Linked DNA regions of Homo sapiens: region 1 is linked to region 2. Evidence: fine-mapped expression QTL. A gene starts in region 2. The other region holds a variant in brackets. All regions are shown on one strand. Distances are from middle to middle. Region 1 overlaps VWA8 (von Willebrand factor A domain containing 8). Region 2 holds the start of DGKH (diacylglycerol kinase eta).

What was found. PIP is the estimated chance that this variant, and not a neighbour inherited with it, causes the effect.
Region 1: its variant is the best candidate, but not a certain one, in a credible set for the expression of DGKH in gastroesophageal junction (GTEx, PIP 0.89).

Annotation. Positions count from the first base shown.
Region 1 is chr13:41,677,572-41,680,478 of GRCh38, forward strand. All of the region lies in intron 35 of VWA8 (von Willebrand factor A domain containing 8), which reads right to left. Among named protein-coding and RNA genes, the nearest start is that of MIR5006, 110 kb to the left of the region's middle. The variant T/A (reference allele first, on the strand shown) is at 1,644.
Region 2 is chr13:42,047,538-42,050,444 of GRCh38, forward strand. It overlaps DGKH (diacylglycerol kinase eta), which reads left to right and starts at 1,111. Exons shown (of 30, transcript NM_178009.5): 1 at 1,111-1,428. The coding sequence starts at 1,237. RefSeq lists an enhancer at 258-347 and a silencer at 888-1,417.

The sequences.
Region 1 (2,907 bases), 370 kb before region 2:
CTCTGGCCACCACTCCACACAACTTCTATGTGAGTTGGCCCTAGTGAAATAGCTATTTGTAAAATATCCCATTTTATAAAATCTTGGCCACCAAGTTCTCTTAAAAAAAACTCCCCAACACAAAACCCAAGCTTTTTAAGATTTTTGTCTGTTTCTCTATCTAATCTTTGATGACAATTTCTGATTAGAATTATATATTTATCTATTCATCCATCCATCCATCCATCCATCCATCCATCTTTTATTACAATTTCTGGTTGGAATGAAGTATCCAGGATGTCCTGGATAAATTCAAATTTGAATTTATCAAATGTAGTTTACAAAAAACAAGAAACTTGACATTTTTATTTCATGCATGTAGTTGAAGGTTTTTAAATAGGCCAGCTGAAAAACTCGACATATCTCCTATTTATTTAACAAATGTGTTTGAGCATATTTTGCGCCAGACATCATATGAAACAGCGAGGATACAGAAAAGAGATGTGGTCTCTGACTTTGAGGCATTCACAGTAAAATGAGGAAAGTTCCTTTTTATTAAACCATTGTGGGCCTCTGGGGACTTGGAAAGGATTCTAGAGTTGGAATCACAGTCCTGAGGCCAGGTATGAGCTGCAGAGCTAGGCATGGGTTGTCCCAAGAGACAAATAGCTCAGCAGGAAGAAAAGGTAATGTCCAAGGAGAGGAATGGGTAAGAAAATAGAGTTACTATAGTAATTTGACCACCCAGCTGGATTAGCTGTCTTCAAGTGGCCATTTGCACAAAATGAATATGCTTATCGTAAGCCACACACAGTCTGCATTGGAAATTCTGCCTGTGATATAAGGTCAATCTTGGATAAAGTTTTGTATCATATATCATTTTTAACAATTCCTGCTGCTCGAACCTAGCTGAAGTAGGTTGAATTATTTATAGCTCAGGGTTCTCTGCCAAGAGTGACCAGTTACTGAAGCTATAGAGATGAGTGGAGCTGCCTCGCTAACTAACTTACTCATATTTTGGCTTGCCACTTAGAGGCACTTTTACAAATAAGGAATAGTATTAAGTTGAGCTACTGCCATCAGCACTTTTAGATTGCCTGTGAAAGCAAAGTAAGCCAACTTATTTTAAAATATCTTTTTTTTCCCATATCTTTCTTTTCTTTTACTTTGCTAATTAATTCCTTGGTGAGAAAATGCAATAATGACAGTGTCTACTATTTCAAGAAGTAGAAAGCAAGAATTTTACTCCTGGTATTAAGAACTATTTTCATATATCAGAGAAGGGTAATTGTGGCTACAGATCACTTCAGGGAAATATAGTAAAGGTGGTGGTAGTGGTGGTAGTAGCAGTAAGCACTTTAAAAATAATAAAAATTGATGTTTACTGATTTGAAAATAAGTCAGCTCAGAAGAAAAGAATATTTACAAAAAGATTCTTGAACAGAATACTTGACTGAATTAAGGAAGTGAAAACTGTGGCCAGGTTTCCCTCCAAACTTAGCCAAGTCCTCATCCATCCATTTTAAACGTTTTAACACTGGAGTGAGGATGGAGGCTCAGTAAATTTCCATTACATTTATAATCCAGGTGGATTTCAAAGATAGGTATAAGTTGTATTTAGGGATTAGTTCACTAACCATTAAAGGGAAGTCATTGCAGCAGTG[T/A]TTATCACATAGCTCCCATGAATAGTGGGGACAGTTTACATGCACAGTGCCAAGGTTAGAAGGAGGTATTAAAAACTGTCAGGCAAAACAACCAAGACAATTTTCAGAGGGAAGGTGAAATGCTATTTAAAAAGTCACTCCTTCTAGAACTGTAATTTGATGTACACCTATTAATCACTGGGTTTAACACACTTCTGTGTTCACAGATAAAAAGAGTGATGTGTGCCCCCAAACTGTGCTGATACCAAATTTTTGATTTTACCCAAAGTTCAAAAAAACATTGTACTGCTTTCAATCAAGAATCATTATTTTGTGTTTAAAGAGCTCAGACCTGTGGTTTAAAAGAAGCTAGCATTTAGCTAGAAGAAAAACAGTTGGAAGAAAGCAATAAATTTCTCCCCATCTGCATTAAATAAAAGCTACCTCATTATTGTGAAAGCCACCAGGAGAGTAGTCTTTACAGTTGATTTCTTTATAAAAGGCTGATATACATTAGTTCCAGACTAATTAGATGGTTGGATTTGGTTTACTTTACAAAATTATTCTAGCTTGAATTTTCATCAGAGATCTACATGCACATAGAATTAAGTATCAAAAAGGCTTAAAGAACAAACAGCCCTGCTTTACCCCCTACCCGCCCCCGGCCGCCCCACCATTTCCTGCCCCCTAGAGACACTTTCAACTTTTTAAGCTATTTCTGTGGTATTCACCTTCATCATTATGGTGCCCTCTTGATGTTTCAGCTTCAGGTATTATCTCTTGCCTTCCTCCCAAGCAAGAAGAGAGTTTAACTCTTTTTCATTCCCCAATCCCCCACTCCCGATTTTCCCATCCCCCCAAACATTCATATAATTTTGCTTGGATTAACATCCAGTGCTTATATTATTATAATTATCTAAATGCTAATCACAGCTTTGCTATGTCTTATATTATCATTACTTTTTCCTGTATAACTTTTTGCTTTCATTGGAGCTAATAAGCATCATGTTTTGTTTGTTTAGTTTTATTTAGTACAAATTTATTCCCAAGGTTCCCTAATTGTTAAAATCTCTAAATATGTTCATATATATTGGGTTTATCAATTTCAATTTCTAAGAGACATCTCTCCTGAAATGTCATCTGTTCTAATCTTAGGCCTGTGCATGGCTGTTACCCTGGGATCTTCCTTCACCATGCTCATAGGGATTTTCATTCTTTCTCTCTTTTTTTACAGCCCACATTTATAAAATTCTTCCCCCATGCCAGACATTGTCCTAAGCACTTT
Region 2 (2,907 bases):
GATCTGTCGTTTTAATGTCTTCTCTCGCAGCCCCCTCACCGCAGCCCCCTCACACCTGTGAGGCTTCTTTGACGTTGAGCGTGCACAACCCGCTGCCAGTCCGCGGTTCCCAAGTGCCCGCGCAGCCAGCTTGCAGGGGAGTTGTGCGCGGTGGCTACAGCCTGTTGATCCCACTTCCTCCTGCTCTAGTCCGGGCTAGGGAGTGGCTCTGCCAGGACTTCCAAGGCTTTTTGTCTCGGGTACTGGTGTTCGCATGGCTCGAGTGTATTGTTTTCTTCCAGGCAATCTCGGTTAGCGCTTCAGCTTAGACACTTCTTGTGCGTTCTGTCGTCTTGGGCTGCGTGTAGTCTCTTGTTTCTGCGCTTTCTCCACGCCCTTCCCAGTTTCCTGTTAGCCGAAGGGGATCGCTCTTTCTGAACGAAAAGTTCTCAGAGCGGAGCTGAACCTCCCGGAAAATGCTCTTCTCTTCCGTGTGCGCCGGATGGGGGTGGGGGTGGGCCAGAAACTGAACGCCGCCGTCAGGAGAGCTGAGGGGACCCGACGGCCCTGGCGGAGGCGGGAGAGGTACGGTCCTCGGAGTGGGGCTGGGGGTGGGGAAACCGACGAGGGGCAGCCCCCGACTGTCTTGGTGGCAGAGGGGACTTTTATTCAGCTGGAACCGCGCGGCGAGGCCCAAGTGTCTCTGGAGAGATTCGGGGTTCAGGAGGTGGCGGGTGCACCCAAGGGTGCTGGGAGGAAGCTCCAGGTTCCCATTCTTCCCCAGGGATCGGCGTTGCCCCTGCTGTCCAGAAGTGAGAGGGGGTGTGCGGGCATCGCCACTACGGGGTGGGCTGCAGAGGTTTCCTGCCTCCCCCACCCTCCTGTCCATCCTAGGGACCCAGACCGTAAGGGAGTGGAAGAGATGTTGCTCCAAACCCTGTCACCCCATCCTCTCTACCCGCGCTGGTCCTATCCGAGGCTGGGTGCGCAGGGGTCCGAGGCGGGCGGGGGTCCGTTACCTCTGCGTCCCACCGTGGCCGCCGCTCCGGCGGGAACCGAGCGGAGGAGCCGGGTGGACCCCTGCCTGGAGGGCGCCTGCCCCGGGCGACCCTTACCTCGCGGGGGTAGCTAGGGAAACGGAAGATGGCGGCGGCGGCCGGGCACGGGGTTCCGGGCTCCGCTCGGGCAGAGCCCACCCGCTGACCAACGCCGCCGCCCCCGCCGGGCGGTGCTGTGTCCCCGCAGGAGTCGGAGAGGATGGCAGGGGCCGGAGGCCAGCACCACCCTCCGGGCGCCGCTGGAGGAGCGGCCGCCGGAGCCGGCGCCGCGGTCACCTCCGCCGCTGCCTCGGCGGGGCCGGGAGAGGATTCGTCTGACAGCGAAGCGGAGCAAGAGGGACCCCAGAAACTGATCCGCAAAGTGTCTACCTCGGGGCAGATCCGGACCAAGGTAGGGCGGAGGAGGCGGGCCTGAGGGCCGCGTGGAAAGCGGGAGGTGGAGAGGGCGCGGGGGCGCTGGAACGCGCCGGGCGATCCCGGGAAGGCGGGGAAGGCGGGGAAGGCGGGGAAGGCGGGGAAGGCGGGGAAGGCGGGGAAGGCGGGGAAGGCGGGGAAGGCGGGGATGGTGAGACGGTGAGGCGGGGCGGGGCCTGGGGCGCGGGCGGGGCGGGGAGGGGTGGGGCGGGGCCCGGGGGCGCTGGACCGCGGTGCTGCGGGACGGATTCCCGGCGGCTGCGCGGGAGGCTGCGAGCCTGGGCTCCCAGGGAGTTCGACTGGCAGAGGCGGGTGCAGGGAACCCGCGGCTCGGCGGGAGCGTGGGAAAAAGCTGACGCGCAGTCGCGAGTTCCTACTTAGGGAACTTAAAAGGAGAGTTTCAATTTTTCTTCCCTGCCGTTCGGGGGAGCGTGCGCATGTGCTGGCCAACCAGCCTGCGCTGCAGTGAGCCCTGCTGCTTTCCCACTTAGGCCCACTCAGAGGGTGGGTGGAAGGTGACACCGGTCAGCCTTTCCTGCCCCTCTGCCTCCTGCTGCGGTCTGGAAGGCAGAAGCCCCGAGGCAGGCAAGTGGGACATGGTGTTCGCGGCTTAACCGCACCCTGCATGGCTCCAAGGGCTGGCCAGGCTTTCGTGTCGCAGGTTCCCGCCAAGTGCAGGCAGGGTTCAGAACCATGCGTCCATGGTTCTTTTTAATAATGAGAAGTTACCTCTGTGCTGTGTGGACATTAGGATGGTGTGTTACTCTTGTTAATGAAGCTTGTGCTGTCGACCTGTGAGGTCTCAAAGTTAATTTTTAATTTGATCATGAACATACCAAAGCAAATGCTTATGGATATTAAAGGATTTTTATGTATTCTAATTTTCATTGTAATTTAAAAATCTTCACAGAGAGAGTCTGTTATCAGTAGGGAAATTTAACGAGGATATTGAAAACGGAACCACAAAATCATTGGCTTGGGGTACCGTTTTTAAAAATAAATTTGCAAAAAATTCATTCTACAGTTATTTTTATGAAAAATTTTCCCTAAGGTCAATGAACTCCTATTTGGAAACATAATTTTTATTCAGTGCCTGTGGAGGCCGGTAACGGTGGCTCATGCCTGTAATCCCAGCACTTTGGGAGGCCAAGGCAGGCAGATCACTTGAGGCCAGGAGTTCCAGACCAGCCTGGCCAACATGGTGAAACCCCATGTCTATTAAAAATAAAAAAATTAGCTGGGCTTTGAGGCGTGCACCTGAGATCCCAGCTCCTCGGGAGGCTGAGGCAGGAGAATCGTTTGAACCCGGGAGGCGGAGGTTGTGGCGAGCAGAGATTGTGCCACTGCACTCCAGCCTGAGCGACAAAAAAAAAGCTAGTGGATTAATGTTTGTAGTAGCCTGCCTCCTTATTTTCTGAAATACATGTGTGTAAGAACAACACACAAGAACAACTGT